Linked DNA regions of Homo sapiens. The protein of the gene in region 1 interacts with the protein of each later gene in a biochemical or structural test. Each region holds a gene or a part of one and is shown in the gene's direction. Other genes may lie near its edges. The genes, in order: LANCL1 and ERG.

Region 1 (4,405 bases):
ATAATACCAAGTGTTGGAGAGGAGATGGAAATGACAGAAACAATTGATATGTTGGAGTGAATACTCTTGGAGTGAACAATAGATACTGTTAGAGGGAATATAAACTAGTCCAGCAGTTTTGGAAAGCAATCTAACAACATTGGGGAAATTAAGTACAGAATCTCATATGATCCAGCAATTGACTGCTGGGTGTATGTCTCAGGGATACTCACACAGATTCATAAAAGCACATGTTCCAAGAATATTATTTGTAGTATGGAAGTTAGAAACAATGTCCATCATTAGGGGAAAGGATTAGTAAAATAAGATAGAGGCATACTATGAAAATATACAATTACCATCCTGCCTTGCTTAACAACAGTAATATTTAATTGCTTAAAGACTGTGAGTGGGATAAATGGATAGCCTTTAATCATTAAAGAAAAAATAATTGATAAAATGTCTCTCGTTTTCCTTTTCTCTCTTGTGAGTTGCTCCTTCAAACACCCATCTTTTAAAACATGAGAGATATCCAGCTTAAGACTCACCATGGGCCTCGGCTAAATCTTCATGAATTTGATGAGGTTAAGAAAGCAACTACATTTCCTAAGAAAGCAACTATTTTAAAAGAGCAAACCTGGGTGTGGGGAGGGATTAGGAGTAGAGTTTGGGATGGCAGCCTCAGAAGGACAAACTTAGGCCAAGGAGGGAGGGAGTTGGGGTGGAGACTGAGCTTCTCCAGTTGGAGGTCTGGAGCTAGGACTCTTCATTGAAACCGGAGAGAAGGAAAAGGAGAGAGTGAGGCTGACTTTTTAACTGAACTCCAAAATTCTCTGAGCAATAGAATGGGCCTAATATGTACCAGGTGGGATTTAATTTTAAATGAAAGAAAAATGTTTCAGATAGCAGGGACTGTTAAAACATTGAAATTGAATGTTGTGGATCTCCTGCTGTGTTGGTTTTCAGTATTTTTTAGAGCTTTGTTATCCAGTATTATAGTCCAATTTAGGCTAAGGAACAGAATAAATTTCCTAAGAGCTGTAATTTGTGTTTTCATGTGCTTTCCCCAAAGTATTATCAACTGCTATTTGATATCCTGTCCTTTGGGCATATTTTTGTTGTTGTTGTTGTTAATGATGGTGGTGCTTTTTTGTTTGTTTGTTTTAAGAAATGAAAAGAAAAGATTGGCAAGTCCCTGGAGAGACATTATCCCCCCACCCCCCGCCAAATTTTATCTATTGCGAACAGCAGAAATACCAGCATGTTCAGATCTAAAAGCAGTCTGTTTCTTCTCCAGGTTAAAAAAATATATACTTCTTATGACTCTGGACTTAAATTTGACTTTTTAAAAATAAGAAAAATTAAAGAAGGGTAGGAAATATTGGTCACATCTCCGCGTGATTCTAGGTCCTCACTTCTGCTACCCAGTAATTAAAATACCCTGCGTTATCCTTTAGAAATTACACGCCTGTGTCTTTAACAAACTGTAAGAGAGAAGGGGGCGGGTCTCGGGAACGGCGAAGGCTCTGATTGGCCCTCCTGGCAGGAACTGGGCGGTAAAATAGCCCTTCTGTTACTGTCCGGGGCTGCGGGGTGAGAGGCCAGGGCCGAGAAGGGCTTCAGGACGCGGGAGGCGCACTTGCTTCAAGTCGCGGGCGTGGGAACGGGGTTGCAAAACGGGGCCTCTTTGTCCGGGTGGGTTAAGGGCCCTGGCAGCTTTTTCGCGAAGGCGCCATGTCCTAGCAGTTGGGCCGCAGTGGGCCCGAGGTCCACTCGGACCGCCGAGACGGCTCGATGGCCCTGGAGCTGGAGGAAGGGGGATACCTGGGCGCCGCCGCCGCCCTCGCAACTCGGCCGAGGCCCCTATCTCAACCTAGTTTCTGTTTTTCCCCTGTTCTGCAGGCTTGCTTCCGGCGTCATGGCTCAAAGGGCCTTCCCGAATCCTTATGCTGATTATAACAAATCCCTGGCCGAAGGCTACTTTGATGCTGCCGGGAGGGTGAGTTTAGGATATGTCTGCCTGCATCCCTGCCTCTCCCCACGGTGTTCGGAAAGGTGCTCATTTTTGCCTGAGAGAGTTGAGCATCCCCCTTTAAAAAAATACATGATTCGACGATAAATACGTAAATTATTTAAAAATACATGTTAATATATACAAATTGAGCTCTAACATAATGTTAAATGTGTCATTGTTAACATTATTAATTGAAATAAACTCAATTATTGATAGTATAAATTTTAAAAATTGGCAAATATGTAGTTTACTATGTAATTGGCATTTTTTAATGTATTTTGGTTTGCTTCTTAAAAAGAGGTGAAGAATCCTAACGGTATTCACATGTGCCGTGTTACTCCTTTGTGATTATACACAAGTGCGTTCAGGGTAATGATGAGAGCAAACGGTGGTGTATGGTAAGGACGTCTTTAAACTGTTAGTGCTTAGAGAATTTGGGGACCTAGGAAACCTGAAGTTCTTTGTACCGGTGTCACTCCACAGGGCATATCCACAGCTGGAAAACAAAAAAAAAGAAACTTGTAAATTAAACTGGTTAGCATGTCACAAATCACTGTGCAAAAGAGAACCTGGATGTAAAATACTAGGGGCCTGTGTTTTCTCATGCCTCATTGGGTGAACATAATTGTTAAGAGGGAATACAGATATTTTTAAGAATACCTACTTTTGGCTGGGTGCAGTGGCTCACACCATTAATCCCGACACTTTGGGAAATCAAGGCAGGAGGATTGCTTAAGGCCACGAGTTTGAGACCAGCCTGTGCAACACAGCAGGACCTTATCTCTACTAAAATTTTTTTAAAAATTAGCCAGGTGTGGTGGAAAGCTTGTAGTCCCAGCTACTTGGGAGGCTGAGGCGGGAGAATTGCTGGAGCCTAGGAGATTCGAGGCTGTAGTGAGCTATGATTGCACCACTGCACTCTAGCCTGGGTGACAGAGACCCTGTCTCTAAAAAATAAAAAAATAAAATTTAGTTTTGAAAATGAGTTAAGTTGGAAACAAGGCACACGCTTTAAAAATTTTACCAGTTTATTTCTTTGAAACTTGTCAGCCATACAAAAGACATTTTATGTGATATAAAGGCCTTACAGATTTCATCCCTGTCAAATTAATCTGTGGGTCTGATGGTTGTTTTTTTCCTTAAAACACTTGTCACATTATAGATTAACTTGGGTCAGTAATGCAGGTAGGAGGAATCAAAGAGATGAAGAAGAGGTGTAGGGTAGAAGGCTACCAAAATGTATATGGAGTTTGAGTCAATCTGATTATTTTAAGACTAGTATTAAGCTGCCCAAACAAAGCTTTTTATAATTATCTTCAGGTCAGATGGATTCCCTTTGGCCATTTGGGCCTGCATTCTGCTTAGCTGTGCAGATTCTCAAGCTGAAGTATGTGTCTTGTCTTGCGGGAGGAGGACTTGCTGCTTCATACTGACTTGGCAAAGAGAACAGTTGAGGATTGTCCTAGTGACAGAAACCTTCAATAAAATGTACCTATTTAGACTGCCTATAAAGTAAATGCTTTTTATGAATTTAACCCTTTATTTATTTATTTATTTATTTTTATTTTTATTTTTTTAGACGGAGTCTCACCCTGAGCCCAGGCTGGAGTGCAGAGGCACAGTCTTGGCTCACTGCAACTTCTGCCTCCCAGGCCCAAGTGACTCTCATGCCCCAGCCTCCTGAGTAGCTGGGATTACAGGTGCACACCACCGCACCTGGCTAATTTTTTTTTTTTTTTGTATTTTTAGTAGAGGCAGGGTTTCACCATGTTGGCCAGGCTGGTGTCGAACTCCTGACCTCAAGTGATCCACCCATCTCAGCCTCCCAAAGTGCCGGGATTACAGGTGTGAGCCACCATGTCGGGCCAAATTTAACCCTTTGTTTCTAAGGGGAAAAATTCACAAATTTAAACCCTGACCCAAGAGTAATAATGTAGTTTATTGCCTAACGTAGTTTTTGGACAGGTCCTAGAAAGGAAGTAGCATACCAGTTCTAAAATTGTGTAATGTTGAACACGGAGGATCAAACCCTGGAGATCTGTCCTCCTTAATTTCTTAACACAAGATTTCAGTAAGGAACTGGTCTGTTTTCTGGCATCTGTCAGAAAAAAATAGAAAAGAAAAAAGGACTTTTAGAGACTTCAGATTATAGCTAGAGTTTGAATGATTTGGTGGTGTACCACAAGCAATCAATATTCTCACAGAGGTCACCTTTATTAAATGCAGAATGTGCCAAACAGAAAGTAACTTCCCTTCATAAGGCTGAGAGATTCTCATTATTCTTGATCTCTTGAAGGCCAGGCAAGATGATAAATTATATATGATCTATATACAGTAGATGACGTGTTCTCAATATAGATGCACTCTTCTATCTAGCTGAGATTTATAGGCCTTTTGTATTAACATTGAAGT
Region 2 (3,817 bases), on another chromosome or scaffold:
CAGAAAGGAGAAATAGCTGCCCACAGCAAGGTCCAGAAAGTGGAGAAATGGTGAGATTAGAACTCAGGGCTCCAACTCCCTGCCCATGTGTCTCTCAGGGCTCGGGGCCCAAGGGAGCAGCCGCCCCATTTACCACACTCTGAAGACCCTACCACTGAGGGTGTTTACCACAGGACATCCCGGCTGGCGTTTCTGTTGGAGATCACCTGCTCCTTCTCCCCCGGGCCCTGCTCTCCCTGTCCCATAGGTAGCACTGGAGTGTGACGACGTGGCCTGCATCCTGTGGGGTGTTTGTGCTCGCCATGGCCAGCTGTGGAATGCAAAAACCACTCACCAACCCCACTCCTGCAGGTGCTGGTTAATTGCAAAACCAAACACCCTGCAGGAAAAGTCTGGAACTGACAGCTCTCTATGAGGAACGCTGGCTCATAGGAGGGGCTAGAGTCTTGGTGTATCTATATTTCATTTCCGATTCTGTGGTCAGTATTTTTCAGTATTTTGCATAAATACTGTTATTATTATTTTTGTTGTTGTTGTGATCTGTAATTAGCACCTTCCTGATATGTGTGGCTTACTCTTATTTCCATATAAATATATATAAATATACCAGTAGTTTTCTAAGGAAAAGAAGTTTCCTCTTATTCTTACTCATTTTAAAATAAATAAATAAAATTGAACATAAATGAGAAAAAAGAATTTTTAAAATCTTATGCCTACAGGAAACTTTAGATTGAGCAAAAACAAGGGCATGTGATGTGAATAATCCCAAGATTCCAGAACTATTCACTTTAAAGACAATGATCTATGGATGTGAGGCAGCTTTTGTCTTTCCCCCAAAATGTTCTCCTGGGTAGCCAGGGAGGCTGGCTGGAGGCTGTGCTTGTGGAAGGCAGCTGGTCAGAAATCCCACGTGGATGGGGATCTACCCCAAGATGAAGATCCCTGGCTTCAGGAATTGACTGAATGTGTTCCCACCCCTTTCAGATCCTACGCTATGGAGTACAGACCATGTGCGGCAGTGGCTGGAGTGGGCGGTGAAAGAATATGGCCTTCCAGACGTCAACATCTTGTTATTCCAGAACATCGATGGGAAGGAACTGTGCAAGATGACCAAGGACGACTTCCAGAGGCTCACCCCCAGCTACAACGCCGACATCCTTCTCTCACATCTCCACTACCTCAGAGAGAGTAAGCTCCCCCTTCCTCCAAGGATAGATGGCTGTGGCTATGGTTCTTATGACCTGAGCTTCAGAGGGTTCAACCAGGTGTGTCGACAGCATCCTCCTGCCCTCGCCCAGTTCCCACTGGGGATCCGAGGGAGCCACATGCTTGGTATGTGATGACTTAGGGGAGCAACACCCTGGCCACATCACCTGATGAGAAGTAGTCAGCGCTCTCAGGAGAAGCCAAAATTCACTTCAACACTCAGCTGCCTCCTCCAGGGTCCTGCGACCAAGAAGATGGAATGTCAAAGGGGAAAGGAAGCGTTAACTGGTCACACATTAGTTAAGTCTCCATGATACCCCGAATCGAAATAGAATCATTAAGGCTTCTCTTTCGTAGGAATTAGGGGGATTATTCTCCCTAAAGCTACATGAAGCCCCACTTTATATTCTAACCTGAGCACAGAACAAGGGAAGTTTTCACTTTGTATCATGTGATTCGGCTTAACCTGACAGAAAGGGATGGCATGTTGGCATGAATCCAGAATGTTTGCTGCATGCTTTAATTTCTACAACGTCCAGCATGGTGAGAAGGAAGTAGTGTGACAGACAGTGAGGTGGATAAATTCTCCTCCATTGCTTTGCCTGGCATCCCAACCACTTCTTCCCTGAATTAAAGACGGGCCCCCATGTAGGTTTTAACATGCTAACAAGTAGCAGGTTGCTGGAAATAGTTATAAGCTTCCCATGATGTTAGTGTGGGAGTGGGGGAACGGTTTTCTTTCTTTCTTTTTCTTTCTTTTTTTTTTTTTTTTTTTGTAAGAAAGGTAATTCTCTTTCTCTCTCTCTCTTTTTTTTTTCATTTTGATGTCGCTTTTTGTTTTGTTTTGTAGCTCCTCTTCCACATTTGACTTCAGATGATGTTGATAAAGCCTTACAAAACTCTCCACGGTTAATGCATGCTAGAAACACAGGTAATGCTGGCCCCGCCCCTGCCTCCCAGCAAGAGCGTAGGGTCTTACGTACAGGTTGCATGCTTTCATGGGAAACCAGTCAGCGCGTGCCAGGAAGACAGAACGCAGGTAGATGATTCAGAATACTTTCGGATACTTAGGAATGTACCACAGCCTAAAGGAAGGTGAAGCCCTTTGGTTTTCTGAGCGCTTCCCAAGCACCCCACTTTGATTATCAAAGGGTTCCTTTTTAACCAGGAGACGTGCAGAATTTGCCTTTAGCCATAACTTAGCTCACATTTGCCGGATTACAGTCTTCTTCTGTTGGTCCCAATATATTCGCTGTGCTGACTCTGTAGACACTAAAAGCATGTTCGATATAAAAGGGCCCTTAGCAACCTCCTTTAATTTTTTCCATTTTTATTCTTAAAGAAATATTTGCTAGGATAAGTTGGAATTTTCTTTTTCCTTTCCAATAAACTTTTAGGCTATTTGATTTGTTTTCCTACAGACTTTGTATGTTTGCAAAAGGCAGGAGGGAATTTCTGTAACATTTTGAGAGCTTTTGTTCAGAGGGAACCTCTGCTATAATTTTGGAGAATATGAAATTAGTCACTAACCAAATGCCTGTTTTCTATCTCTAACCGTTGCCTCTACATTTGACTTAGTTATGTATTTATTTTGCCTGAGCCTAAGTAGGGTTTAACACCGTGCCTCATCCTGGCTAACCTTCCTCCCTCGCCCCCCGCTCACAGCAGAGGCTGGGTTTTCTGTGGATGAATGTGTTCCTGGTTCACATCCATCTGCTCCTTCCTGATGGAGAGAGTTCCGGAAGCATGGCCACCGGCTGCTCACCCCACTCTGTTAGCTGCAGGGACCCTCCACAATCACTCGGGCTAGGGAGGGAGACGGGAAGTGCCAGAAAGCCTTGCAAGTCAGCCAGTTAACTCACGATCAGCCCTCACATAGAAATACGCAATTTTCCCAATATTTACCATTTTATTTTAAAATATAAAATGTGAGTGAGTCCCGGTTTGAGTATTACAATGAAATTGCTCATTTATCATGGTCTTCTATATTCAACACATTGTCTTTTTAATCTGAAGTTTTAAAAAACCTGCTTCGAGTTGGTAGTACACTTTTTCAATAATTTTGGTTGCACACATCAGCCTATTAGTGACCTTGTGGCCAGAAATAACAGATAACTTAGAGGAAGTTACTTCCCCTTCTTAGGAAACACCTTTGAGCTATGCACATTTTCTGATAATTTCACATTTATTTATGAGTTCTTTAACCATTGAGTGAAAGTTTCAAAAAAGCTCCAAATATATTAAATTTTGCTATTGTTAAACACGGAAGAAACCAATGAACAAGACAACAAATTCCAAATGGACTGAACTATGAAAAGGGAATTTTCTCAGCTAACAGCATGAGTTTTGGTCAAAAGAGAGAGAGGGAAAATGCATTTGAATAGAGATGTGGATTAATTATTAATAAAATCCATATACTCTTAGGCTAAATACTTATAATTGCTTGATACTACTTTCCAAAAGCTCTGTAAAATATATTATGGGTTTTTATACAAGTTGAAAAATAAAACATGTACCATATAATTTTTTAATAAAACGAGATTGCCCAGTGGGAAGTGGGATTGAGGGGGACACAGATAGGGCTTCATCAAGAAGTTATAAAATCAAAACA

Evidence for each region.
Region 2: the proteins of LANCL1 (region 1) and ERG form a complex in vitro, tested with the Homo sapiens proteins (one large-scale study listed by BioGRID).

The regions. Positions count from the first base shown.
Region 1 is NC_000002.12:210,473,889-210,478,293, reverse strand, and holds the start of LANCL1 (glutathione S-transferase LANCL1), read left to right. Parts: upstream 1-1,534; 5' UTR 1,535-1,674; intron 1,675-1,881; coding exon of another isoform or gene 1,882-1,897; coding exon 1,898-1,978; intron 1,979-4,405. UniProt on the Homo sapiens protein: Functions as a glutathione transferase. Catalyzes conjugation of the glutathione (GSH) to artificial substrates 1-chloro-2,4-dinitrobenzene (CDNB) and p-nitrophenyl acetate.
Region 2 is NC_000021.9:38,400,877-38,404,693, reverse strand, and holds part of ERG (transcriptional regulator ERG), read left to right. Parts: intron 1-984; coding exon 985-1,188; intron 1,189-2,056; coding exon 2,057-2,137; intron 2,138-3,817. UniProt on the Homo sapiens protein: Transcriptional regulator. May participate in transcriptional regulation through the recruitment of SETDB1 histone methyltransferase and subsequent modification of local chromatin structure.